2 separate regions of the Homo sapiens genome follow, and region 1 is linked to region 2. The links come from fine-mapping of genetic effects on gene expression. A gene starts in region 2. The other region holds a variant in brackets. All regions are shown on one strand. Distances are from middle to middle. Region 1 overlaps GDF7 (growth differentiation factor 7). Region 2 holds the start of LDAH (lipid droplet associated hydrolase).

Evidence for each region. PIP is the estimated chance that this variant, and not a neighbour inherited with it, causes the effect.
Region 1: its variant is fine-mapped to the expression of LDAH in whole blood (INTERVAL, PIP 0.99).

The regions. Positions count from the first base shown.
Region 1 is chr2:20,676,722-20,689,280 of GRCh38, forward strand. GDF7 (growth differentiation factor 7) reads left to right here. Exons shown (of 2, transcript NM_182828.4): 2 at 1-2,522. LDAH (lipid droplet associated hydrolase) reads right to left here. Exons shown (of 7, transcript NM_021925.4): 7 at 7,310-10,373. The coding sequence ends at 10,182. Among named protein-coding and RNA genes, the nearest start is that of GDF7, 16 kb to the left of the region's middle. RefSeq lists an enhancer at 1-223. The variant T/C (reference allele first, on the strand shown) is at 3,176.
Region 2 is chr2:20,814,878-20,832,410 of GRCh38, forward strand. It overlaps LDAH (lipid droplet associated hydrolase), which reads right to left and starts at 8,224. Exons shown (of 7, transcript NM_021925.4): 1 at 8,160-8,224. RefSeq lists enhancers at 7,100-7,925, 7,728-7,797, 8,018-8,407.

The DNA.
Region 1 (12,559 bases), 140 kb before region 2:
GCCTTTGGCTGGGCAAAGTTTGGGCTGGTGCTTCATGGCGGCAGGACCAATTACAGCAGAGCAACCCAGGATGGGTGGTCATTGAAAAATGGGTGTGAAGTCACTGAAAAATCAGACTGAGTTTCAAGTTATGCTCACAGTTGCTGAAAAAGCAAAAATATGCCCTTAGAGCAGCAGAGCAGCGTGCGATGGTCCACTTCCTCCTGCCTCTGCAGAGCTTGCAGGCCTCTTCTAGCATCTGTGCATGGTGCGCATGTGTCTGTGACAACAGAAAGGGTGGGTTTCTCTCACACGTTTCCCTGACAGTGGCAAGGGGGCTGCAGCGGTCACAGAAACTTCCGGAGAGAGGTGTTTCTGTGCAGTCAGGTGAATTTGTTGGCAGGACAGCTTGGTGTGATGATACAAGAAGTACAGTTTCACTCTTTTTTTGTCAGATGAACTTCCTTCTGCTAGTTTAGAAATGCTTCACTCCAGAGAGGGCCACCTGATAGAAGCTGTATTACAGAAACTTTTAATCTCTTTTCTATGTCAGTAAGGGGATGCTGAAATAAACTGTCTAGAAAAACAAGAAGCTTCTGTCACACCCAGGCCACTTTCGGCAGAGTGGTCCAGAGCGGCCAGGGCACGGCCAGCTGCTTTGCATCTGCATTCCCGTTTCATTACCTTTTGTGTTGTGGGCCAACAGGAGTGCTACGTAGTGGGGGCTGGAGATTTGTCCAGGCAGGAGGTGGGCAAGTGGCTGTCTTCTCTGCAGAATACCTGCACTGCTCCATCTGACCAGCAGTGGCAACAGCCACAACCAGTTCTGCATCTAGCTCCTGCCCAGACCTTTGGCTGCCAGAATCTAGAACCATGGCTGACCAAAGCGAGACTTCCGAGTAAGGTTCGTTAACAGGCATCCTGCTGAATTAGAAGGAAACAGGAACGAATCCAAAGCAAACGGGGCTAAACTTCCCTCGAGGACATTTCCTGAGCTGCAACATGGGAAGCGACAGCACCGAAGCTGGTGAGCTGGTGCAACTGCACACACCTTTTCTCTGGTTTTTAGTACTCACAGGTCATCCTGGGGAGACCGCTCATGGGCTATGGGCAGCCCATGCCTGGATTTTTTGGTGAATGAGTCTGAAAAGCAGTGACCAGGTGTGTTGAGGGCCTCCCCTTGCCTGCACCTTTTTATCTCTGAGTGACTGAGGGCTGCCAAGGCCAGACAACGCACATGTGTCCTGGATCCTCCCCTGGCCTGGGGCAGCAGCAGCAGCAGCAGCTGGGCTTGGGGTGAGTAGGCTGGCTTGAGGAAGGGGCTGCCCACAAGCAGGGCTCATTTCCTGGGTCAGGGCCTGTCAGACTCAAAGTCAGCTCTTCAGCATTCTGTTTAGAAAATGATGATGCAGTTCAGTGAGAAAGAAAGCTCAGGATAAAATATGTTTTCTGGAGGGGAAATACTCAAGTGTTCTAAGCCAGGAACAGAGACTCTCAAGAGAGGAATTCTCTGGCATTCTCTGCCTTGGATAAATCATGGATTAAACATGAGCATCCTTAGAATAATTTTATTTTTGTATTTCACTTTACACTGTAATGCAAACAGCTTTTATGTTTTCTTTGACGAAGAATCATAATTGAGTCACTTTAGGTCTTTTAGCTGGAAGCATTTCACCCTAAATGAAAAGTTAATGCATTTTTTACAAGGATTAACATGCTAACTACAACTTGCCCTTTCAGCAGATGACAATAAGGGATTCTGAAAAGTTTGGACTGTCTTTTTCTTTTTGTATACAAATAAAGCAGCAGATCCTTTCTCTGTGAAGGTTGTTGCAGAGCTCCCGTACCAGCTTATAAAATGCGGCTGTTTAAGCAGGACTTGGGTGGGCAGCAGAATTCTGCACATGACGAGTGGCTGCAGCTTAGAAAGCAAATTTCATCTGATTCCAGTACTGTGATTTTAAGGAAACGGTAAAACTCAAAGTGCCAGTAATGCCATCAAGGCTCAGTAACATGCCATTTCCTCAGCAGCTAAAGACAAAAAGAATTATTTTGGTGAGGGGATAGAAATCCTTTCGCTTTGCAGTGACACCCACTTTTTCTTAGCTTGGCTTGGGAGTAAGGAGATTGGAGTGTGGGGGGACATTAGAAACTCATTTAAGGCAAACTGAAATCTCCTTCATCAGCAGTCTTCCTGCTGGTGTAGCCACAGCAGAACTCCGAGGCTTGCAGGCTGGGCTGTCTCCTTGCTGCCTGGCTTGGGTGTTTATTTGGGCAATGCAAGCTGACATTGTGAGGTGTTGCCGATGCCCAGGCCAGCTAGCAGGGAGCCCTCCCAGGGCTGGTAGAAACCTATGTGTATATATATTCTCAAATTTAAATAGATTGTACATAGTGAAATGTAAATGACATGTAAAACAGCAATCTCTATTTTTCTTAACTATTATATAGCAGTATATATTTGTTGAACATGCTTGTATACTCTTCATTAACCATTTTAATATTTTGTACAGATAAGTTGATTAAATATTTTATTCATAAAACCGCTCATGACTGGTCTCTAAAGGAAAACATTTTCAGCTTTTGTTACTCAGCCTTTCTGTGTTACTGTAGTCCTCATTAATAGAATAGCGACCAGCTATTGAGGCCTTAGGACTGACTGCATTTTAATAGTGAGAGTGACATAACAGGCCTGACTCCACTTGCCTTTGTGCCGATCATTCCCCTGTATTGTCAGATCAGGTGTGAGGCTGTGGGCCTCTGGTATGGGGGGCTGCACCCTGGGTCTTGGTGACTGGTATGAAACTGTATATGATGCTGCTGCACACAGCCTCACACGGCATGAAGTCACTGCAGAGCAAGGTAAAAAACATCAAGCTTGGGTTCAGGAAAGGAGGCCAAAATGCAGTGGAAAACATTTTCTCTTTGGGAAATGAGCATGATAATGTGTAGAGTGAGCACTGTCATTCCAAATGCAGTTTGGGTGGACAGGTTTTCTGTGTTTATACATCTCAGACTGCTGCAGGACCTGTCTCACTCCAGAAAGCATGAGCCCTCCCCACCTGGAGGATGCACAGGTAAGTCTCTGAAATCCCAAGGCATAAAGTCCCATGGAAGCCGCTTCCTCTGCAAGGCCAATTACATACGTCACAGAACCCAATAAGGTCCTACAGCAAATTCGACAGGCCTTTTTTTT[T/C]GCCCAGTACTCTTCGAGACAAGTACAAAAGCCTGTGCTTGGTGACACCACGAAGGATGCAGCAGGACAGGATCAACCACACAGCGTTCTGTTGCTATCCCAGCTCTCACAGCTGACTTTTGCCCAGATGGAGAAATCTATTTCATGTGTTCCTTAAATATTTCTGGGAGAGGACTAATGACAGAGCAGGAATTGTAGGAAGTTGACAGGGACTTGGCCTTATTAGTGACTGTTACCAGGATTACCTCTTTTGCGATATGAAGCCTGCTGGAGTGACCCACATTTTCGTCAGTGATGGCAGCCCATGTTCATGGTGAATTCAATATCCCAGTTTGTTAATGCAGGTCCCTGTGGTTATGTAACTTTCTCTCTCTGGTGAAAGATCAAGAAAGCCTGCCTTCTTTTCACCACTCGATTTCCTATTATAAATAAAGGAGTCTCTTCTTTGGAAGAGAAATTGTGTTCCCTTTCCAACTAACTCATTTGGCAGGTACAATCAATGTGTAAGTTCTATGACCCTGCCATCGAAAACTGGAATGTCTTGTCATGCTTTGTTTATAAGCATCTTTGGTCCATTTTTCATTTTCTTATTTTTCAGTCTCCATTTGACCTACCACAGCATTCTGTGGTTAGAGTACACATTCAGTAGAGGAGTAGTTACAGGGAGAAAGGAAAGTCGGGAGTGGCATTAAAAATTTTATCCAATTTCCCAGACACTGATAAGAGCAAATCTAAAAGGCCCGTCCATGACTAATGGTAAAGGCGGCTAAGATTGACTTCTCCACTCCTTCCCTGGTCCTGTCAGGTCCTGGATCTGCCTCTGATGCCTGCTCATTTCCAAGCAGGCCAAGGCAAAGATGCCTCCAACTGCTGTTCCATTGAGGGTGGTGCCCAACGTGGTCATGGATGCATGTGCTCTTGTGTCCTAGGAACCCTGTGACTCATCTGCTCAGAAAGGACAATGATCTGGGGAGAAACTTGTCCACTGTGAGGTGCCACCAGCATGCAGCCCTATAGGCTGTGGGTGTCTGCCGAGTCCTAATCACATGCAGGTGCGTGGCCCTTCACAGTGGCCAGTAGGAGGAAGCCCAGATGTTCTGCAGAGCCTGAGCTGGATGGATTTGCAGAGGCGGGATTCTAGTCCCTCTGTGAGGGAGGGAGACCCTGCAGGTGCACCGCACCCCCTGGCTGTAATGGACGCCCAGTCACAGGGTCACATTCTCATCCCAGGGAAGAGGAATTTTCCCATAGACTTACCCAGCAAGGAAATCTGTCCCAATGTGGGGAGGTCAGCACAGGCCCCTTTGCCAGAATGTTTGAGGAATGCAACACAAAATGAAAATGCTCGATTATCCCAGAGCACAGTCATGTGTATTGTTGCTGTAATTCCCACTCGGGGTGCTGCGCGGGGTTAGTGCTCAGCAAATAATAAACTACATATTTGGTAGTTGCTAATACCCAAACTCCAGAGGTTTTCTAATTGTAGAAGAATGGAAGTAACAGTTGCAGCCATATCAGACAAGATGAATGGGACACAAGGGATAGTGGCCTTGCTTCCTTGCAGTCCCCCAGTGCCAGACACAAACAGTCTGCAAAGATTCAGACATCCTTGAATCTATCTGACCCAGTTGTGCACAGCTCTGCTGGGGAAACACTTAAGGGATAAAAGAGCAAGTGTCCATGTCTGCACTCCCACTGATGTGTCAGTTTTAAGATGAAGAAGCCCAGAGATGTGATTTCCTGGTAGTCCGACCCAATGTGAGAATTGCACTTTTTCACAGCTTGCCTATTAGGTATGGTAGAAACTTTTTATTAATTTAGATAACAAAATTTATAGACTACCCTGTGTAGCAGGCCATATTTGATATGCCCTGACAGCACAGAGATGACTAAGACAGAAGGTCATCTTCTAGGACTCTCCTGAGAGAAGGGGTGTTGGTGGAGGCAGGGAGGAGCAGACTGCAGAGACACAATCCCGCAGCAATGATAAGTCATTCAGTAGACACAGGCCAGGCCAGGGGTCATGAAGACTGGCAGGGCATGGAAGGGTGGGAAGGACCGCTCTGGGAGGCAGGAGCAGTTGGTATTTTAGGCCACGTCTCATGGGGTGGGGTAGAGGATGGGCGTAATCAAAGCTGGAGCAGTGATTCCTGTACAGAGGAGTCCACAGGAAGCTCCCGTGCGTGGCATAAGACCAGGTGGCTATGGAAGAGTTGCAGAGGTGCCGGCCATGTGGCTGCAGCCACAGCACTGACTCCCAGCATGTGGGCTTGCTTTCTCTCAATCCACTGCCTGATGCATATTTTTGCCGTCTGAAAACTGGTCTCTGTTATAGCTTTCATTCTTTTAAAACTACTCATTTGTTACCAACGATCTACTCGTCACTTCTTCTGTCAATCGGGTCCTCATTTGCCCTTTGCGTGACTCTCTTTCCCGGCTCTCCACTTTTGCTAGGCTTGCCCACTGTGGCCTCCAGGAGGCAGCATGATGCAGTGGAAAAAGGGGATGAAGTGGTGGCTCTGGAGTAGAGGCCTGAATTGGAATCTGGCTTAGTTCATTTTCTGTTGCTATAATGGAATATCAGAGACTGGGTAATTTATAAAGAAGAGATTTATTTCTTACAGTTCTGGAGGCTGGAAAGTCCAAGATTGAGGGGCTGGCATCTGGTGAGGACCTTTGTGCTACATCCTCCCTGGCAAAAGGTGGAAGGGCAAGAGAGCATGAGAGAACAAGAGATCAAACTTGCAGCCTAATATTGTGGCTTTTTATCACTGGCATTAATCCATTCAGGAAGGAAGGGCCCTCATGACTCAGACACTTCCTGTTAGGACCCACCTCCCAATAGTTGCATTGGGGATTAAGTCTCTAACACACGAACTTTGGAGGACATGTGCAACTACAGGAGAACCCCAGCTCTGTCATCTATTAACTGTGAGGTCCTTAGCAAGGCACCTCAGTGGTAATCTGTATAATGGGCATAGTCAGAACATCACAGGATTGGGAGGCCTAAGTGAGACACTGTGAAGGTGCTGGGGTGAGCAGCATACTCCTTATCTGGATTAGCTCTCATCTATTCCAAACCACCTATCCAAGTTCTACCTGCCCTTCTAGGACTAGGGGCAACCTCATCCTCTTCTCTCTTCCAAGAGCTTTGTCTTTATAGAACCCTTTATAGAACCATAGAACCACCCAGAGCTTTCTTTGACCCTCGTTCGTGCTCTGAGGATGCTCACCCAGCATCACACTCAGTGACGCCGGTCTTGCTCTAGAGATGCCTTCAGCCTGGTGGGAGAGGCCAGACCCATGTCCCACAGACACTCCTCACCTGGGCCAATGTGATCACTTACCCATGTCTGTATGGGGCACAGGCAGGAATCTCAATCCTCTTAAAAAGTGATTAGAAGAACACTCATATGAGCTTTGCTGTCCTCAGCACTCCTGCAGAAGAGCTTCATTCAAGGTCCCACAGATGTATTTGTTCACAGAGCACACTCAGTCCCAGCCTCCAACCTCTCCTTAAGGCCCACCCCTAAGGGAAGGAGCAGCCCAAATATATCCTTGCCTCTTCTCTTCTGCAAGAGAAGGCCAGGGATGAAGATGTCTCAAGCCATCTAAGAAATGCTTTGCTTCCCGCATCTTTTCTAAATCGACTGTTAGAACATCCTGGGCTGTGTGCAGGGAGGCCTGAATGGGCTGAGGCCAGAAAGCTGAGCCAGGTGAGCAAGTGTTATCCCTGCGTAAGAGCCAAAATGCTGACTGCTAGAATCAAGTTACAAGCCTGGTGAAACAGTGCAGGGACTGAGATACCACAGGGTCCTCTGCTACACTAAAGAGAAGAGAAATGAAAGGAAAAAAGGAAAAACAAGTTTGCTATCCTCCTTTAGGTACCATTTTATAGAGAATCCACCATATGCCAGGCAACATACTAAATGCTATATGCATGACCTCATTTTATCTCCATTAAAAAAAAAATGAGGAGCTGGGGGACTCAGGGAGGTGAAGTGAAGTCTTATGTCACAAACCTAACAAATGACAGATCTGGGATTTGAACCCAGGTCTTCATTTACTGCGTACAAGAGGAAATAGCCTTTTTGGAAAAGAAGCAATGAGACACGGATGCAGGAGATAGCATGGTGGGGTTTTAAAAATAATTATTTTTACAAATTCTAAAACATCTCAAACTTCCAAAAAATCTGCAAGTACAAAGAACATTATTTTCCCCTCAACCATCTGACAGTAAACAGACATGATGCCCCTCACCCCCAGATACCTCAGTGTCTCCAGTACAAACAAGGACACTCTCTTACTTCTTCCCAGTACAACCACTGAAATCAGAAAATTAACAGTGGCATCTTACTCCCAGCTAATCTTCAGACCTCATTCAAGTTGTGCAAATTGTCTCAACAATGTCTTTTATAACAAAAACATCCAATTCAGAATCAGATGTTGTGTCCAATTGTCATGTCTCTTCAGTCTCCTTTAATCTGAAATTGCTTTTTTTTTTTGCTCTTTTTTAAAAATTATTTTAGACACGAGGTCTCGTTTTTTGCACGGGCTGGTCTCAAACTCCTAGCCTCAAACGATCTTCCCAGCTCATCCTCCCAAGGTGCTGGGATCACAGGTGTGAGCTACGGCACCCAGCCTGTTTGTTTTGAATATAATGTAGGATGAAGAAAAATCAAGCCTTTGGTGGTCCGTGTCTCTCCAAAGGTTGAGTGGAGAAGCGTATGGTGAGAGGCCCTTGGTGGCCATGGACATCAGGCCACACAAGCCACAGAGGGCTTGTGGAGATGCTTATGGCTGGGAACAGACTAGGAACAAACACGGGTGTGGTCAAAGCTCAATCGCTGAGCACTCGGTAACTCTGCAGGAAGTTAAAACTTTCACAAAGACCATCCATGTGGTTGACTGGGACATACAGGCAGAGCTGCTTCTGGAAAATGGATTTCTTCCACTGTTTGTCCATTTTAGTCTAATCCCTAATGAAACAGAATGAACTTCAGTCTCTTGAAATCTGATTCTTCCACCTATGAAAAAAGCAATGAGAAAGGTGGCTTTTCACTTTAAAAGAGAGACTTTGAGCCGAGTCTAACTCAGGAGAACTGCTCAAATTGTACCCTCTCTTGCCCAACACAGAGATCAGGCCAGACCAGGTCAGAAATGCTGGTAAAACATTTATTTCAAAAATTCATTTGGTTTTCAGATGATAAATAGGAATTAAGAATGAGTATCTTTCTTAGGCTCTAAAAACCAGAAATAAGACACAATTTCATACGTGCAGACTTTTGAAATATGGAGTAACATTTAAAATAACAGATAAAAGAAAAGCTCTGAATGTTACTCTTTATTCTGGTAGGTATGATTTACCCAGTATTGTTTACATGCCTTGATTTAGTATCAGTGAGTATCTCCTGTATGCAAGGCGCTCAGAGCCATGATTCCTAGCTTCTAACATCCGATTTCTAGGCCTCTCATGCAGATGCCAATAAAGGATCTGTGTACAGCCCTGTGCTTACGGCCTATGTATCTATTAGCTCTTCCCCTTGGGCTAACAGCACTCCTTGTCTGGAGCTTGGCTTTTCCCCTCTGAGAAGTCACTTGCTGTGATGTAGAAGCTATGCCAAAGCACAGTAACTCATTCAGCACTTACCAATAAGTTGGCAGCAAATCAGAGCCAAATCTTTCATCAGGGGGCTTTAGGATTTGAGCGGAGGGACATCTCATTGTCCTTAGGGAATGATAATGCCATGAGGGATTTCCTCTAGGAGAAAAAGGAATATTTCTGATCCATGATCAACTGTCACTGCAGTATGTGGTTCTCAAGATTGAGTCAATTTAGGGGAGGCAGCAATATTGTCAGCCCACTCTAGGCCAGGGAATATGTGTCTTCTCTGCCATACCTCAATGTGTCTAGAGAAGGTGAATTCACATAACTTAATGGCTGGGTTTGGTTCATTAACAAAATAATTTCTTTCCAGCAAATGAAGTTAATGCAGAAATGGAGAGTTAATGTATGGCAATGTTTTACTGAGCAGTTTAAAAGAAGCTTTTAAAAATTATTCACTAGAAGATTTCCAGAAGAAAAGAATCATTAAGTAGCTAAGAACTCCATCCTCAATGGCTAGCACACTATTTGGCTCATTGATGGTCTTTAATGGAGTTTTAGTGCAAGAATTACAGAAGGAGCAACTGTACGTTGGCACATCCAAGCCTGCTTTGGGACAGCCCAGTGCCTCTCCATCCTGGCTCTGGAGAGGAGGAGCCTGCAGGGAGCTTATAACCTGGGAGGCTAAGGCTCAGCATAGAACTTGCTGGTTGTCCTGTGGCAGGAGGCACAGTTGGGGTCCTTCAACAATTCTTTATCTGGTTAGCTGACCAGAGTAATGTCTGGTGAACTTTATTCTCTGTCTAGTGCAGGTACATTAGACGTCACATTGATGATCTCAGCCAAGATCTGTGCTAAGTTAGCCTGGGCTCATCTTCATCTTCTGTCTTACAGGAGACCCAGGTTCACTTCCTGCTCCTGGAACATGAGTGTATCCTTGTCATAATCTCATACACTTCACATATCTAACTATACTCTTAACATTCACTGATTTATTTTACATTTTCTAGTAGGTATTTCATAATTTCCTCCAGAGGAGCCTATTCTACAATGTAACTCAATTAAAATCAAGTACATGTAGATTTTTTTTTCATCTGCAAAGATCCTGCCTACCAAAATAAACCATATGGTGCCACTGGGCATCTTGTGCAAACACAAGACTCTGTGTAGATCACTGTGTTCCCTGAGTCTTGGAAAATGTATGGTTAAACCTATGGAATGATTCATCAACTGTGTTTACTTCAGCCTATAACATGGCGAGCGGAGAGTTGGTTTGTAAGACAAAGGTTCTCACTTTCTTCATTTCTAATATCAGTCTTCAAAATTAAACATTTACCTACTAAGTCTAGTACACTGACTGCCTCCATGTACTGGCAGTGGGGGCTTGTTCCTCAGGCCAATTTACATTTTGGACAAGTCATCCTTTAGGGAGTCAGCAATCATGTCTGCCATTTCCTGGTTAAAATGGGTGATGAAAGCATGAGGTATGTTTTTCTCACAGAGTCGAATGTCTCCTTCTGGAAAATCCTTCTTAATGTCTTCATAGTACTCTTTTGGACACCAAGGATCTATAGTACCATAATAAAATGTAAGCTGAAAGACAAGACAAAAACCTTTTATTAGAAAACACGTTCCCTTCCTGACACAGATATGACACCAGCAGCCGGCAGTGCTCTGAGGACAGCACCTACGCCTGACCCTGGGAGCTAGTCCCTAAGCTCTCTCCAGAGTGTGGCTCTCTCAAGGCAGCAAGGCTTCACGATGTACAGGAGTGCACTTAGAAGAATTTGGTGGGAAGATCCCCATGCTGGGAGACTCTTGTGTGATAGATCACTCATAATTCACTGAAACGACTTACCAGGAAAGTTTTGTGTACTAAGGTTGGGATGGACACTGGAATGAAGGCCGGTGAGGATGACGAAGACAGTTATTGAGACATAGTCACTGAATGACTAGTGACCAGTTAATAAACTTAGTTGTTTCCAAATAGCCACATGGTAGTCATATGGGATGTATTTGTTGAATGAATACAAACACAGATCAGATAGACTCAGGCTTTCCAATGTAGCTGATGAAATGTGATCAGAATCCTGAGAGAGTTTATGACCTTTCTAAGAAAAGGCTCTATGCAGCCTGTATGTTGATTCAGTGGGGAAGTGCAATAATCATACTTCAATTGACAGCAAGCAGCTGAATGGAGACAGAGCCTCCTCTGTGGCATTACTAAGACCCTGAATGGATATCTACCTAAACCTGCATGTGATATATATGTATATTGCTCTAGGCTGCTGTGTTTCACTGAAAAACTGCTATGTTCTAGTTCTGTTAGTTCTAAAAATAAAGGCAACAAAGCAACATCTTATATTCAGAAGAACAGATAGTGGCAATTTCTACAAAAACCAAGAACTAAATCTTAAGGATCCTTTGACCTCTGTTATCACTGAAAGACAGAGCTATGCCTAGCTCCAGCCCCTAGTTGGCCAGCTGTAGTCACTTGCAGCTTCCCTAATATACCAAATGTGCTCCTTCATTCAGACACTGAATTGCTTACTCATTCCTTTGTTCATCAAATACAAATGGAGCACCTACTTTGTATTAGGAACCTGGAAAATAGAGATAAGACAGTCTTGGGGGGAGGGGAGAAGGGGACCCCATGTATACAAGACAATTTGAGAGCTCAGGTGAGGTGCAGCTGGTCAGAAGTAGTAGGCAGGAAAGATTCCCCAGAGTTGATGCCTCAGTTGAGTCTTCAAGCTGGGGCAGCACACTGTGGGGAGAAGACCAAGCAAACCAAAGCTTGAAAGAGCATGGCATGTGTGGGGAACTGGAATTCCACATGGCTGGAATATAGGGTGGTGGGAGATAAGACTGGAGAGGCAGAGAGGGATGAGGTCATGGACAGCATCTTCTATGCATGCCAAGGAGGTTGCGCTTTATCCCGAAGTCCACAAGGCAAAAAAGACTGCACAGTGAAGTGACATGCTGAGGTCCCTATGTCAGGAAAACCACTCTGGCCACAACGAGAAGAAGGATTGGAGGTGATCAAGTGCTGGGGGAGGAGAGTGCAGGGAAGCAGGCGTTATTGCTCACTGGATAGTTTGAGTGTATCAATTATTAAATCCATGACCTGAATATGGGACAGATGAGACTGATCTTACGAAAACAATGGCCTTCATTACAATAACATGATGCCTTAACCAATATTTAGATGGTTAGTTAAAAACACTTTATAGAGGAAAAAATTTAACATAGTACTCCAGAGAGTAAATTATGAACAAGTAAACCTCAAGTGGCAGACTTACTCTGAATTGCTTCATGGAGGTTTCCTTTTTTTTTTTTTTTTTTTTTTTTTAATTATACTTCAAATTCTGGGACATGTGCAGAGTGTGCAGGTTTGTTACATAGGTATACACGTGCCACGGTGGTTTGCTGTACCCATCAACCCGTCATCTACATTAGGTATTTCTCCTAATGCTATCCCTCCCCTACCCCCCATCCCCTAACAGGCCCCGGTGTGTGATGTTCCCCTCCCTGTGTCCATGTGTTCTCATTGTTCAACTCCCACTTATGAGTGAGAACATGCCATGTCTGGTTTTCTGTTCCTGTGTCAGTTTGCTGAGAATGATGGTTTCCAGCTTCATCCATGTCCCTGCAAAGGACATGAACTCATCCTTTTTTATGACTGCATAGTATTCCAGCTTCATGGAGGTTTTCTTGGTTGTTACCTGGGGTTCCAGTTTTGCACGCTGCAGAGGACCTGCAACTTACAGATTTATCAC
Region 2 (17,533 bases):
CCTTTTATTAGGGCCTGTAACAAGGAATTACCTGAGACAAAAAGAGAAAAAAATTATGTATGTTCATGCTTCATCTGCTAATTACAGAGATAACTCTGCAGAGGTTTAAAATCTTGAGTAACATTAGTTCATATATACAAATAACCTAAAACTGTTACTAGTTTTTCCAAGAAATTCCATGTATATTGAAAGTAGCTCTCCTTGAAGGATGAAATGTTTTAAAAAGTAAGAACCAAAAATAATTACAAAATAGAAAAAATACTAATTAAAATTAAAAACTTGCTGGATGGGCTCAATAGTGGAGTGGAATTGACAGAGAACAGGATCAGTGAACTTGAAAACAGATCAACAGAATTTACTTAGTCTGAACACAGAAAAACAGACAAAGAAACAAGAAAGGCATCAGGGACTTGTAGGACAATAACAAATGACCTAACATTCATCCAATCAGAGTTTTAGAGGAAGAGAAGAAAGTATGGCGCTGAAAAAAATAAAGATATAATAGCTGAAAACTTCACAATTTGACAAAAGACATAAATCTACAGAGTCAAGAAGCTGAGAAAAACCCTAAGTGGGAAAAAATAAAAATAAAAGATACATCATAAGTCAAGTTTAGAAAATTAAAAACAAAGAAAAAAATCTCAAAAGCAGCCAAAGAGAAATGGCACATTACCTTTAAGGGGAACAATAATTTGAATGCCATCAGATTTCTCATCAGAAATCATGGAAGCCAGAAAGAAATGGCACATTTTTCAAATGTTAAAGAAAAAGAACTGTCAAGGCCAAATTCCATATAGGACAAAACCACCCTTCAGGAACAAAGGGGAACAACATTCTCAGATGACGGAAACTAATTTGTCACTAACAGACATATCTTTAGGAGGTTCTCCTAAAAAAAAGTTCCTCAAACAAAAAGGAAATGATGTATCAATAAGGTTTAATTTGAGTAAAGGAAGAACACTGGAACGGGTAATAGTCATGGTAAATATAAAATGAACTATTCTTCATCTTATGAGTTTCTTAAATCATATTTGATAGTTGAAGTAAACGTTATAACAACATTTGATGTGGTGTTCAAGGTGTATAGAGAAAATACAAATATTAAATTTTAAAAAGGGAAAAGGAGAAAGGACCTACATGGAAGAAAGGTCTCTAAACTTCAATTGGCAAAAGGCAATAAAAGTATCCCTTGTGATAAGTTGTTACATCTATTGTTATACCCAAAGCACACTAAAAAAGGTTAACTAAGCCAGATACTCAAAAACACTATAAACATGTCAAATAGAATTCTGAAAATATTCAAGCAACCTACAGAAAGACCAGAAAAGAGGAACAGATATGAAAAACAGGAAATAAACAGAAAACAAATAATAAAATGGCTGGCTTAAGCCCTAACACAGCAATTACTTTTAAGTGTAAATGATATAACTATACTAGTTAAAAGACAGAGATTGGCAGAGAAGTTTCTTTTTTAAAAGACCCAAGCATATAGCGTCTATAAGAAATTCACTAAAACATAATGACATTGGTAGGTTGAAAACAGAAGTATGGAAAAGATATGCCATACTAACTACTTTTTTTAAGTAGTGATGGCTACACTGCCATCAGTTAAGTAGACTTCAGAGCAAAGAAAATTATTGTACAAAGATACAAGGATTAATTCATCAAGAAAACATCTTAAATGTATATGCACCAAACAACAGATATTTAACATGAAGCCAAAACCAACAGAGCTCAAAGGAAAAACAGAGACATCCATAATTATAGTTGGGATCTTCAGCAACGAAAATAACTATTAGACGATCAAGAAGACACAGAAGAACAGAACACCACCATCAATGAACAGGACATAACTGACATGTATAGAACACTGCAACCAATAATAACAGAATACACATTCTTTTCAAGCATACATGGAACATCCACCAAGATACACCATACCCTCAGTCATAAAAGAAACTTAAAAATTAAAAATTATACAGCTTATGTTTTCTGATCATTGTGGAAAAAAACTAGAAATCAACAACAGAAAAACAACAGGTAAATCACCAAACACTTGGAAACTAAATGACACACTCCCAAATATTTTCATGGGTCAAGCAAATTTCTAAGGAAAAATTTAAACTATATAGAACTGGATAGAAATGAAAATACAAGACAGCAAAATTTGTGAGATGCAACAAAAGCAATGCCAAGAGGGAAATTATAGCAATAAATGCTTACGTTAGAAACAAAGAAAGACCTTAAACTAATAATCACAGCACTAGACAAGAAGCAAAATAAACCTAAAGTGAGAAGGAAGAAAATAATAAATATAAGAGCAGAAATCAATGACATTAAAAATATAAAAATAGACAAAGATGAAATAAAGAGCGAGTTCTTTGAAAAAGGTCACTATAACCAGCAAATCATCACTGAAAAAGATAAAATGACACAAATTACTAATACAGTAGCAATAATGAAACAAGGGTTATCACTAAAAACCATGTAGAATACTATTACCCTACCAAAGCCTGACAAAGGCAGTACAAAACAAACAAGCAAAAAACTACAACACATCTCTCATACCTATACCTTAACCTCTCACACCTCTCTACCTATACCTTAACAAAATATTAGCAAATAGAATATGGAAATATATAATTATATACTTTAACCAAGTGAGATTTATACCAGTTGTGTTCAACATTTTAAAATCAATGTAACTCACCATATCAACAAGCTAAAGAAGTATTAATTCACTAAACATACACTTACCATATGACTTAGCAATTGTACTCTTGGGCATTTATCCCAGAGGGGGAAAAATGTATGTTCACTCAAAAATCTTCAGACAAAAGTTCATAGAAGCTCTATTTATAATAGTGTAACCCAAATGTTCTTCAATGAATGAATGGTTAAACAAACTGTAGCATAGCCATCCCATGGAATACTACTCAGCAATAAATAAAGAAATGCATGACAGATACACACAATTTGGATGGATCTCAAAAAGTTACATACGGTATGAGTCCATCTACACAATATCCTTGAAATGACAAAATTATAGAGATAGAGCAGTGGTTGCCACGGGTTAGGGATAGGGCTGGGACAAGATAGACTGACTATAAGGAGGCAGCATAAGGGAGCCTTGTGGTGATGGAATAATTCTTTATCTTGATTACGGTAGTTATAAGAAGCTACACATAGACCTGTGTACACACACAAATGAGTCCTTATAAAGTTGGTGAAATGGAAATATACTCTGTGAATTGTATCAATGTCAATTTCCCAGTTTTAATATCGTACCACAGTTATCCAAGTTGTTACCATTGAGGCAGGCAGTCTGAAGGGTACACAAGGACTTCCCTGTAAAGTTTTTTGCAACTTCCTCTGAATATGCAATTCTCTCAAAACAAAAAGGTTTTTAAAAAAGTTATTAATAATTATATATGTATTTAATTGCAACTGGTATAATAAGTGGTATGAAAGGGGAAAATTGGGAATCTTAGCACATAGCCCTATATAAACTTGAAAACATACAGGTGAAAGTCAACACATAAACAGATGATGCATAAACAGAATTCTTTTTACGCTTCTGCTGTAACTATGGGTATCCATCTCATCTTTCTCCAGAATAACATGTAAGAACAAGTAATTGTTTTCTATATCCTAACTTGATCACCATCTAGCCCCTTGCAATAAAACTACTGCTTTTTTTTTTTGCTTCTTTTTATTTGCAAATTATATTCTCTTCCTTTCTCATCAGACCTAAAAAGCAGGCAATTAATAGAACAAGAAATTGAAGGTCAAAGATGTTTACATTTTTTGTTCAAGGACATAAGCATTTAAATGGCAAAATAAATTCTACAGTCTTCTGATACCTATTCCAATATTTCCCAGTCACATATTACTTTGAAATATTATATAACACTAAAGAATCCAAAAAACAAACTGCAAAATACTGTAGGAGAAAGTCCAAGTGGTAATGAGTGTATGTTACACCAAGATTCTGTGTAGTTGTCTTTGCTCCTGCTTGATGTGGTTGCGAGATGAGCAATTTCACAATTCTTCTTTTAATGACTTTTACATTTTCACCTACTTTTGCTGTATTTGCTGTCTGAATGACTGCACACTAACCCCAGTGAGATTTTTCTTAAATCTGTGCAAGTGGGCCAGAAAATAAAGCTTAAATGATGAAGATAAAATCTATGACTACTGCTGAGGACATATTAAAAACGAAACCACACACTACACTCAAGATGAACTTGCTGAATTATCTTTACTGGAAAAAGGCAATTTGTTTTGCACAACTCCTTTGCAACTGTGACATCAAACTTTCTTGTAATTACACACACAATTTTTTTTTAATGTACCAGAGAGTAGCTTTCAGCTTCTGGACATCAATTAATGCCAAGAATTTCACAAGTGTACAAACTACTTACCTATATTAAATACACTCATTAGAAATAATATATTAATTTCCCTTTGGTTGAGGTATACTTAAAGTGACTTCAGAATTAAGTGCTCAATCTTAAATACATTATGGTAATACTACAAGGGAGAAAATGCTGAAAGCAGAGCAACATTTTAACAAAGAAAAAAGTCCTCGCAAATCAATAAACGTAATCCAGCATATAAACAGAACCAAAGACAAAAACCACATGATTATCTCAATAGATGCAGAAAAGGCCTTTGACAAGATTCAACAGCTCTTCATGCTAAAAACTCTCAATAGATATTGATGGGACGTATCCCAAAATAATAAGAGCTATTTATGACAAACCCACAGCCAATATCATACTGAATGGGCAAAAACTGGAAGCATTCCCTTTGAAAACTGGCACAAGACAGGGATGCCCTCTCTCACCACTCCTATTCAACATAGTGTTGGAAGTTCTGGCCAGGGCAATTAGGCAGCAGAAAGAAATAAAGGGTATTCAATTAGGAAAAGAGGAAGTCAAATTGTCCCTGTTTGCAGATGACATGATTGTATATTCAGAAAACCCCATCGTCTCAGCCCAAAATCTCCTTAAGCTGATAAGCAACTTCAGCAAAGTCTCAAGATACAAAATCAATGTGCAAAAATCACAAGCATTCTTATACACCAATAACAGACAAACAGAGAGCCAAATCATGAGTGAACTCCCATTCACAATTGCTTCAAAGAGAACAAAATACCTAGGAATCCAACTTACAAGGGATGTGAAGGACCTCTTCAAGGAGAACTACAAACCACTGCTCAATGAAATAAAAGAGGACACAAACAAATGGAAGAACATTCCATGCTCATGGATAGGAAGAATCAATATTGTGAAAATGGCCATACTGCCCAAGGTAATTTATAGATTCAATGCCATCCCCATCAAGCTACCAATGACTTTCTTCATGGAATTGGAAAAAACTACTTTAAAGTTCATATGGAACCAAAAAAGAGCCTGCATTGCCAAGTCAGTCCTAAGCAAAAAGAACAAAGCTGGAGGCATCACGCTACCTGACTTCAAACTATACTACAAGGCTACAGTAACCAAAACAGCATGGTACTGGTACCAAAACAGAGATATAGATCAATGGAACAGAACAGAGCCCTCAGAAATAATACCACACATCTACAACTATCTGATCTTTGACAAACCTGACAAAAACAAGAAATGGGGAAAGGATTCCCTACTTAACAAATGGTGCTGGGAAAACTGGCTAGCCATATGTAGAAAGCTGAAACTGGATCCCTTCCTTACACCTTATACAAAAATTAATTCAAGATGGATTAAAGACTTAAATGTTAGACCTAAAACCATAAAAACCCTAGAAGAAAACCTAGGCAATACCATTCAGGACATAGGCATGGGCAAGGACTTCATGTCTAAAACACCAAAAGCAATGGCAACAAAAGCCAAAATTGACAAATGGGATCTAATTTAACTAAAGAGCTTCTGCACAGCAAAAGAAACTACCATCAGAGTGAACAGGCAACCTACAGAATGGGAGAAAATTTTTGCAACCTACTCATCTGACAAAGGGCTAATATCCAGAATCTACAAAGAACTCAAACAAATTTACAAGAAAAAAACAAACAACCCCATCAAAAAGTGGGTGAAGGATATGAACAGACACTTCTCAAAAGAAGACATTTATGCAGACAAAAAACACATGAAAAAATGCTCATCATCACTGGCCATCAGAGAAATGCAAATCAAAACTACAATGAGACATCTTCTCACAGCAGTTAGAATGGTGATCATTAAAAAGTCAGGAAACAACAGGTGCTGGAGAAGATGTGGAGAAACAGGAACACTTTTACACTGTTGGTGGGACTGTAAACTAGCTCAACCATTGTGGAAGTCAGTGTGGCGATTCCTCAGGGATCTAGAACTAGAAATACCATTTGACCCAGCCATCCCATTACTGGGTATATACCCAAAGGAATATAAATCATGCTGCTATAAAGACACATGCACATGTATGTTTATTGCAGCACTACTTACAATAGCAAAGACTTGGAACCAACCCAAACGTCCAACAATGATAGACTGGATTAAGAAAATGTGGCACATATACACCATGGGATACTATGCAGCCATAAAAAAGAATGAGTTCATGTCCTTTGTAGGGACATGGATGAAGCTGGAAACCATCATTCTCAGCAAACTATCGCAAGGACAAAAAACCAAACACCACATGTTCTCACTCATAGGTGGGAATTGAACAATGAGAACACTTGGACACAGGAAGGGGGAGATCACACACCGGGGCCTGTTGTGGGGTGGGGTGAGTGGGGAGGGATAGCATTAGGAGATATACCTAATGTAAATGACAAGTTAATGGGTGCAGCACACCAACATGGCACATGTATACATATGTAACAAACCTGCACGTTGTGCATATGTACCCTAGAACTTAAAGTATAATTTTAAAAAAATTAAAAAAAAGAAAGAAAAAATCCTCCAGTCTGAAGGCATTAAGTTATCAAAAAGCAAAATATTAAAATATAAAATTTTAGATGGGCACCCACTGTGTTGCCCTGATTATCCCCCTAGAATGCTACATGCTGGAAAGAGGGGCCTTAGCAGGTTTCTAAGTCTTTAACCTTCAGGTGGAAAAATGGGGAAACACACAAGAGACACTCCTACGTATAGTTTCAGAAAGAAGTTTAATTAAAAAACAGCTTTTGAGAATAAACATTCTGGAGATGCTTCTAAATCTTCTGGGTTTCTTTTGGTTGTATCTCTTTCTCCATACAGATTTGTTCTTTCAACTCAAGGACTATCAACTCTTTTTTTTTTTTTGAGACTGAGTCTCACTTTGTCGCCCAGGCTAGAGTGCAGTGGCGCCATCTCGGCTCACTGCAAGCTCCACCTCCCGGGTTCACGCCATTCTCCTGCTTCAGTCTCCCGAGTAGCTGGGACTACAGGCGCCCGCCACCACGCCCGGCTAATTTATTTATTTATGTATTTATTTTTGTATTTTTAGTAAAGATGGGGTTTCACCGTGTTAGCCAGGATGGTCTCGATCTCCTGACCTCCTGATCCGCCCGCCTCGGGGTCCCAAAGTGCTGGGATTACAGGCGTGAGCCACGGCGCCCGGCCAGGACTATCAACTCTTGTGTTTGGTACACAGGACACAAAGCAGGTGTCCGGTAACTACTTGCGAGGGAAGATACGAATTAACCAAGGAATAAAGTGTTCCAATCTGCATTCTGTCTTGCGTGGGGAACAAAACCAAACTAAGACCCAAGGATGAGGGTTTACGGTTAAGGTCTTCAGCGTGAATAAAAGGCGGCGTGAGCACTAAACGCCGGGGGCAAAGAACACTCCCGGCCCAGAGTTTGACCCCTCCTAGCGAGTTCTTCCCGGCCAGCTGCCCAACTTTTTGGCCTCTACTCCTCCGCGGGGGCACCATAAGACTCCCTACAGGTGGGCTACACTTAGGGGTTCAAATGCTGCATTACCGCGCTCGGGTGAGCGACTGCCCGGCCTGCAACTCAAGGGACTCCCAGGCCAAGTGGCTCCGAACTCGCGAGCTGTCGGAACAGTATTATTTTTGCTGCTACGGGCCATCTGGCCCAGGGCAACAGGGGCTCTGCGAGGAACCATAGAGAAGAAGGGGCGCCAGATCCCGCGTGCCTGCCCACCCGTCCTTCCTTTGGGCAGTCACCCTGAGCTCGGCAAGCTGTACCTCACCTGTCCACCTGGAAGGCTGCCCGCTCTCCCTGAGGGTCCTGGGAAGGCGGCACGAGACCGGAAGTGCCCCCCTCAGGTGACGTCACAGTACCGCGCCGGAGCTGATCCGGGAAGCCGATGTCAGCCTGGCGCGCGGCGCACAGCTGGCTGGGAGATTTCTTACTGGCTTGGAGCCGGTGGTCCAGATCAGAGAGACCTCTTGGAGGGTGTCGGGGTTTTCCTTTCTTTTTCATTTGAATTTTATCCGCCTTTTATTTTCTGTCATCCTTGATGTGCTTCTGGCTTCTGGCTTCCCTTTCCTTCTCTCTCATTTGTTCCATGTCTGCCCCTCTTTTCTCCCTCTTCCCATTTCCCTCTTTCTGCGTTACTAGTTGCATATCTTCCCCACATACACAGGAAAGTTGATTCTCATTTGATCATGTTCATAAGCATGATCAATAAAGTATTTTTTTAATTAAGGTGTTGCCAACTTTAAGAAAATTCAGAGAATAATATTAAGTATAGAGTTTATTTGGGCTCAGTGCTTGAGAATGGCCACTCAGGAGCTTAGATTCAAGTTGCCTTGAATATACACTCCAATTAGCAGCAGTCGGAGTAGGTTTTTTTTTTTTTTTTTTTTTTTTTTTGAGACGGAGTCTTGCTCTGTCGCCCAGGCCGGACTGCGGACCGCAGTGGCGCAATCTCGGCTCACTGAAAGCTCCGCTTCCCGGGTTCACGCCATTCTCCTGCCTCAGCCTCCCGAGTAGCTGGGACTACAGGCGCCCGCCACCGCGCCCGGCTAATTTTTTGTATTTTTAGTAGAGACGGGGTTTCACCTTGTTAGCCAGGATGGTCTCGATCTCCTGACCTCATGATCCACCCGCCTCGGCCTCCCAAAGTGCTGGGATTACAGGCGTGAGCCGGTTTTTAAGGAAAGGAGAGGAGGCAGAGCTTAACTTGTTTACCAAGAATTTATATTTAAAAAACTTAAGCTATTGACTGGCTATGCTTTCTTCCTTGTATCACAAATTCCAGGAACATAAAGATAATGGGTGAGGCAGCTAATAAAGAACAAAATGCCTTTAACAATTGCCCTAAGGCATGGGAAGGCGTGGCGGAAGCCAGTATTCACTTCTGTCCGGGTCTAATAAATTTTGCATACCTCACATAGCTCAGACAGCTCTGGGCTATTTTTCTTTTCTTAGTATGTACTTTTTTTAGACATAATACTGTTGTACACAATAATCTACAGTACAGTGTAAATATAAATTTTATATGCACTGGGAAACCAAAAAAATTCTGTGAACTGCCTTATTGTGATGTTTGCTTTATTGTGGTAGTATGGAACTGAACCCCCAATATCTTCAAAGTATGCTTGGATTTAAAAAAGAGGTTTACTTAGCTCATGGTTCTGCACATTGGAAAGCTCAAGGGGCATAGTGTGAGCATCTGCTCAGTTCTGGTTAGAGTTTTTTGTGCAGTGTCACAACATGGTAGAAGGTCAAAGGGGAAGCTGATACATGTGAAAACAGACCAAACAGGAGGTGGAAAACAACCCACTCTCTCAGGGACTCTCTCTTTTCCAATCTCTCAAGAGCTGTTATCAAACCAAACTGGAGTCCAATTGCCTGTGCAGCAAGACCAAACACTGACATCAGGATTATAGTGAAAGAAAGTGAGGCATTTATTGTAGGGTCCCAAGCAAGGAGAACTGGTCAGTTAGTGCTTAAGTCTTGAACTCCCTAATTGTTTATAGGTAAGGGTTTTTAAATGCAGGGGTGTCAGAGGTTATAGGCAAAGTCATAAATCAATATATGGAGGTTATATATTGGCTTAACCTAAAAATGCAGTGAGGTAGGATGCAGGAATTGGACACCAGACCAAATTGAGGACTAGCTAAAACAGGGGCAGGGAGGAAGCAGCTTTCCATATTAATGCCCCTTTCCATGGCAACAACCTGACAACCCAGAGGTTACCACCCTTTTCCTAGAAATTTCTGCATAATTCACCCCTTAATTTGCCTGTAATTAAAAATGATTATAAATATGACAGAAGAACTGCCTTTCAGATGCTACTCTGGACACACTGCCTATGGGGTAGCCCTGCTCTGCAAGGAGCAGTATCTCTGCTGCTTCTGGACACTACTACTTCAGTAAAAGTTGCTATTTAACACCACCGGCTCACCCTTGAATTCTTTCTTGGCGAAGCTAAGAACTCTACTGGGCAAATCCCCAATTTGGGGCTTGCCTGCCGTGCATTGGCGGGGCATCTCAAAGAGGGGGGCCCACAGGTCATAGGTGGAATTTAAGGATTTTCTGATTTGTGATTTGTTAAGAAGGTGAAACTCTCTAAAAATTTGATATCAGCAGAAAAGGATATTAGCTTGGGCTCATGGGCATGGCCTCCTTTAAGCACCTCAAGAAGAAATTTAGAACAAAGAATAGTAGTCAGAGTTTAGCCTTCAATTCTCCCTTATTTGAGGCCTGTGTGCCAGTGGATCCATTTAGTGGGGATCTGGGTTTCTGAAAAACAACTTGGGACATATGTTAAGATGTTACCTTTAGTTTTTATAGGAAATACAATATCCCGTGACATTAATTTTTTGGCTATTGTTTTAAGCTCTTATTATCTTCTTGCTTTTAAGTTTGTTTTGTTTTTGTTTTTGTTTTTAGGACTAGCTAGATGTCTGGAATTTTCTTTAAGGAAGTCAAGATTTTTTTTTATTTTCATCTTTTGGTGGAGAGTGCCCTGCAAGCCCTTAAGAGGGGTCTCTGCTGTGTCTCAGAACAAGAACTGACTTTGGCGAGAACAGCAACAATCTCTTCATGAGGGATCCACCCCATGACCCCAACACCTCCCCATAGGCCCCACTTCTGAACATCACCACACTGGGGACCAAATTTCAGCATGAGTCTTTTTGGGGACAAACTATATCCAAACCATAGCAACACATATTGTGATAAGAAATAAACCTTTGTTGCTTAAGGCTTTGGAGGTTGTTGCTGTTGTTTCTTACCACAGTGCCACACAGCCTGTCCAGATTGATGCAGAGGGACAGCCACACAGAGATTCTTTTTTCTCCCTCTTTCGATTTTAATTCCTAATACCCGGGGAAGAATTTCTGATTGGCTCAGCTCAGGTCTTGTCCTAGTCCATTTTCTGTTGCTTATAGTAGAATACCAGAAACTGGCTAATTTGTAAAGAAAAAATTATTTCTTACAGTTATGGAGGCTGAGAAGTCCCAGGTCGAGGGGCTATACCTGGTGAAAGACTCTCTGAAGAGTCTTAAGGCAGCACAGGGCCTCACTTGTCCAGGAGGCTGAGTGTGCTAGCTCAGGTTTCTCTTTCTTTTCTTGGAAAGCCACCAGTTCCCCTCACATGATACCCCTTAATCTAATTCATTAACCTATTGATCCATTAATCTATGAAGGAATTAATCTATCCATGAGGGCCGAGCCCTCCTGATTCAATCACCCCATAAAGGTCCCATCTTTTAATACTCCCCTTTGGGGATTAAATTTTAACATGAGCTCATAAATATATACACTTACTATGTACCCACAAAAATAAAAAACAAAACACATTATTTAAAATGAAATAAATTTCAACATGAATGCTATGGTTTGGATATGGTTTGTTTTGGCCCCCACCAAGTCTCAGATTGAAATGTGGTCCCCAGTATTGGAGATGGGGCCTGGTGGGTAGTGTCTGGGTTGTGGGTTGTGGGTATGGATCCCTCATAATGGCTTGGTGCCATGCTCGCAAGAGTGAATGAGTTCTTGCTCTGTTGCTTCCAATGAGAGCTGGTTGCTAAAAGAGCTGGCACCCCCTCCCTTCTCTCTCTTGCTTTCTATTGCTGTGCAGTTTCTACATACCAGTTCTCCTTCATTTTCCACCATAAATAGAAGCAGCCTGAGGTCTTCACCAGAGGCAGATGCCAGCACCGTGCTTCTGGTACAGCCTACAGAGGTATGAGCCAAACAAACCTCTTTTCTTTATAAATTACATAACCTCAGGTATTCCTATAAAGCAACACAAACAGACTACAACAATGAGTTTTGGAGGGGACAAATATTCAAACCCAGTACCAATTTTCTGTCTTAGCCCATTTACTGTTGCTTATAACAGAATACCTAAAACTGGGTAATTTATACATTTTATTTTATTTAATTTCATTTTCATTTTTCACTGTAACCTTGAACTTCTGGGCTCAAGCTATCTTCCTGCCTCAGCCTCCTGAAGAGCTGGGACTACAGGCATGTGCCATTATGCCCGGCTAATTTATATATATATATTTTTAATATCAGTCTACCACTGTAGACTGATATAAATTTTATACACACACACACACACACACACACACACACACACACACATATTTAGAGATAAGGTCTTGCCATGTTGCCTAGGTGTGAGCCACTCTGTCCAGCCTGAAACTGGGTAATTTATTTTAAAAACAAATTTATTAGGCCAGGCATGGTGGCTCACGCCTGTAATCCCAGCACTTTGGGAAGCCAAGACGGGCGGGTCACTAGGTCAGGAGATTGAGAACATCCTGGCTAACACGTTGAAACCCTGTCTCTACTAAAAATACAGAAACAAAATAAACCAGGCGTGGTGGCGGGCGCCTGTAGTCCCAGCTACTCAGGAGGCAGGAGAATGGCGTGAACCCTGGAGGCGGAGCTTGCAGTTAGCCGAGATGGCGCCACTGCACTCCAGCCTGGGTGACAGAGTGAGACTCCATCTCAAAAATAAATAAATAAATAAATAAATAAATAATAAAACTAATTTATTTATTACAGTTCCAGAGGCTGAGAAGGCCAAGGTCAAGAGGCTGAAGCTGGTGAGAGCCTTCTCGCCAGTTCCACTCCTGTGATAACCCGTTAATCTATTAGCCCATTAATCTCTTAGTCCATGAATGGATTAATCCATTCATAACAGCAGATCCCTCATGATCCAGTCACCAACATAGCAGGTCTGGTGTCCAGCAATCATTCAATTGTCAATGACAAGTGCTTGTGGTCATATTGACTTTTTGCCATAAGTAAGAGGATCATAGTGAATGGGGCAGACATTCCACGAAGATGTCTACTATAATCACAAATGGCCATAAAGTCAGACCACTGTAGACTGACTTAAAAACAGTAAATGAAAAGCTATCGTCTTTTGCATAAAAATTTTAGACTCCCGTTACTCATCCATTTTTTATTGACTATCTGTCACATTCCAAACACTCTTCCAGGCTAGGAATACAAAGGCAACTCAAAGAGAAATGTGATTGTTCTCACAGACACAATAAACAAACTAAAGAAATTAATATATAATGACAGTGCAAGGGGAATTAAAAGGCAAGGTTAGAAACAGAGAGCAAGGAGTGCATTGGTTACTATTTATCCAGTTGCACCAAAATATATCAGCTTAAAACATAAAACATTTATTATCTTACACAGTTTCAAAGGGTCAGGACACCAGTAGCAGCCTAGCTGAGAGGTTCTAGCCAAGTCTTTCATGAGGTTCCTGTTAAGCCAGTTGCTCAGGGTTACAGCATCTCAAGCCTTGACTGGGGCTGAAGAAGCAAGACTAGATTATTTGGTTGTTGGCAGGTCAGACTTCCTCAATGGCTGTAGGCCACAGTTCTTCACCATGAGGACCTCTCCACAGTGCTGTTTGAAATATGGCAGCTTTCTTCCATCAGAGGAAGAGACAGAGAATACAGAGACAGTACCTAAGACAAAAGCCACAGTCTTTTATAACCTAATCTCAGAATTGGCTTGCTGCATCATTCCCTCAGTGAAATGAATCACTTATCACTTCTACATGCTATTTAATGTGGGAAGATATGTGAATTCTGAAAGGCTGGGGCTACTGGGGACCATTGTGGAGATGCACTGCCACAATGGTGCATTACTTTATATCATGCAGGCAGGAAAAATCCTGTCTTAGGTAATTTTGAGAAGAGAGCTGCATGAAACTAGGAAATAAATGTTGGATAAGGAGAGTGGGAGAATCCTTATATACTCTACTCTCACACGCCTCTTGTTTTCATTCTGAACTCATGGCTCATATTTTCTAAATTATCATAAGATAATCATACGGTCCCTTGATACTCTCTCTGTAGTACTATTTTGAATTATTATTTAATACCTACATGGAATTTTAAAGCATTTTATTCATTTATTTATTTTTATTTTTTATTTTTTGAGGCAGGGTCTCACTCCTGTTTCCCAGGCTGGAGTGCAGTAGCATGATCACAGCTGACTGCAGCTTTGACTTCCTGGGCTCAAGTGATCCTCCCACCTCAACCACTGGAGTAGCTGGGACTACAGGCACATGCCACTACACCCAGATAATTTGTTCTATTCTTAGTATAGATAGGGTTTTTCCCTGTGGCCCAGGTTGGTCTCGAAATCCTGGGCTCAACTGATCCTCCCACCTCAACCACTGGAGTAGCTGGGACTACAGGCACATGCTACTACACCCAGATAATTTGTTCTATTCTTAGTATAGATAGGGTTTTTCCCTGTGGCCCAGGTTGGTCTCGAACTCCTGGGCTCAACTTGTCCGCCCCCTCAGCCTCCCAAAGTGTTGGGATTACAGGCGTGAGCCACCACACCTGGCTGGAATTTTTAAGCATTTTAAATTTTTCTCTAAAACTGTAAATTTTAGGGAATTCTGCTACTTTTAGGGGTAAAAACCATGCAGTTAAATTAGTTGCTCTAATTCATTATTGATTTGTATTCAACTCAAAATACTGGTTTATTATTATTATTGTTATTCCTAATACTAAATAAATCTGTTGAAATCTAACATAGATCTTAGTGTAAGGCACTGATAGGGTTTGGCTCTGACTTCCCACTCAAATCTCATTTTGAATTCTAATCTCCACCTGTCGAGGGAGGGATGTGGTGGGAGGTGATTTGATCATGGGGGTGGCTTCCCCCATGCTCTTCTCCTGATAGTGAGTGAGTTCTTACAAGATCTGATGCTTTTAAAGTGTTTGGCAGTTTACCCTGTCCTCTCTCTCTCTCTCTCTCTCTCTCTCACCTGCCATGTAAGATGTGCCTTGCTTCCTCTTCACCCTCCACCATGATTGTAAGTTTCCTGAGGCCTCCCCAGCCATGTGAAACTGTGAGTCAATTAAACCTCTTTCCTTCATAAATTATTCAGTCTCTGGTAGTATTTTTATAGCAGTGTGAAAATGGACTAATACAGGCACATAGAGAAATGTGAAATCCTGTATGGTGTATTTGGTTGGATAGCAAAGCTGAGCGTAGTTCCAGCTAAGAAATGGAATAGAAAGTGACATTTTAGCTGATAGTATGGCATTGGAATAAACAAAACTGAAGCAATGGGTGACATGGGGACCTTTTTTTTTCTCTTGTCTAGTTATCTATTCCCACCCCACCTCTCCTTTTTTTTGAGACAATGTCTCTTTCTGTCATCCAGGCTGGAGTGCTGTGGCATAATCATGGCTCACTGCAGCCTCCAATTCTTGGGCTCAAGGAATCCTCCCACCTCAGCCTTCTGCATAGCTAGGACTACAGGTGCAAGCAACCAAGCCTGGATAATTTTTTTTTTCTCTTAGAGATAAGGTCTCACTATATTTCCCAGGCTGATCTCAAACTCTTGGGCTCAAGCAATCCTCCTGTCTTGACCTTACAGGTGTGAGCCACTGCACCTGGCCCTCTTATTCTTTTCTAATAATACTTATTCTTTCTCCTAGGAAGCTCATGTGTTTAGGGCGAAGCTCTAGGACGACCCTTGATTGGCTTAATCTGTCATCATATTCCCCTTCCCTGGCCTTAGTCACTAGTTCCTGGCTTGATCTGTAACCTAAGCCCATTCTGTCAGGGTGAAGCGTGGGATGCCAGGCAAGTTGTGTTCTTTGTCTTTCCAGATAATGTGCTATATGAATATGATGCCTAAAATTGCTGCAGACGTTTGGTCTCCATGATGCAAAGTTGAAATAGGGAGAAGTAAGACATGGAGAGAATCACAGAGAAATGGAGGCGGGGTTCTGATCATCATGCATGAAGTCTGCTACTCTTTGGACATTCCAGTTGTGTGAGCCAAGAAAGCCCTATTTTTAAGTCAGTTTCAGGTGTGTTGTGTTATTTCCAGCAGAGAGCCTCCTGATACATCCTTACCTACTCCAGGGGTATCTGAGGACTCATCATAAAAGCCATGAAGGGCTGACTGCCTGCTTCATTTGGTTTAGCAGTGGCCACAAAAAGATGCAATGAAGGGTTTCCTGATTATTTAACTTCATAATTGGGTGATAGGAAATAAGTTATGGAAAGGAAGCTCCAGAATGTAAATTGAGACTTGTAAAATAGGCTAATTATGAAATGTTAAGGAATCTGTAAATGATCAGAAGGAGATACTTTTGTCAAATAACAATATCTGCTTCATGTCAAGTTCTGTGACTTGACAGAGAAATGTCAAAATGGTTTACATGGGTCTAGAAGGGGCAAAGAAGTTTGAGGGCAAGTTGAGGATGATGGTCTCAGGCATAAATGGCCCCTCTTTGCCCAATCCATATAGACTCATGTCTGAGTCCTATGGAGAGAAAACTCTAGCAGCAAGAAGAAATAAATAATTTTTCCACAAAGTCCAGGAGAGATTTTGGGATCCCAAGGCAATCCTCTGTGACAAGAACCACTGTGACAGGTTTTGGTACCAAGGAATACAGCAGAAGGGAGAAAGCTGCCTCTTATAGAACAGAGAAATCCAGTAAAGTGTCCCACAAACATGACATGATTTCAGAGGTATATCAACCACCAACTACGTGCAGCACTTACAGGGAGTTACAGTGGAGATAGTACAGAACCTTTTGGCATTTCATGGCCAACTTCACTGAGAAGAAAGAGAGGAAAAATGCTGCATTCCTCATATTTCTGAGATCAACTATGCAGAGACCCTTGAAGGAAACTCCTAGGAAATGCCACAATTGCTGGAGAACATTTAGTGGGGGTGAGGGATTAGTTGGGGACACTTCATAGCAAGGCTGTTGATGTCACAATGACAGCAAGCCAGAGAAATGGGTAATACTCAGATCTTCATGGTAGAAGAGAATAATCTGGTGGATATTAGAATGCTAGAAGGACCTGTGCTCATTAATCAAAAATGTTCCCCTCTACCTTATTATTCCATTCCACAAAAAGTGGAAACTCCTGGTTTAGACATCTGTTGAATTAATATGTGTGGTTGATGATTATATAAAAGGCAACAAGAGGAAGAAAAAGGAAAGAGAACAAAGGGATGAGAGAAAAAAAAGATATTTTTTCAAAGTTTAGAAGACAAAGATTTCTCTTCAATGTGTACTCTAGAGATCAGACCACGAGTCATAAATGTTAGTGAATTTTGAATTATGTTTTCCCACTGGCTCTAATACT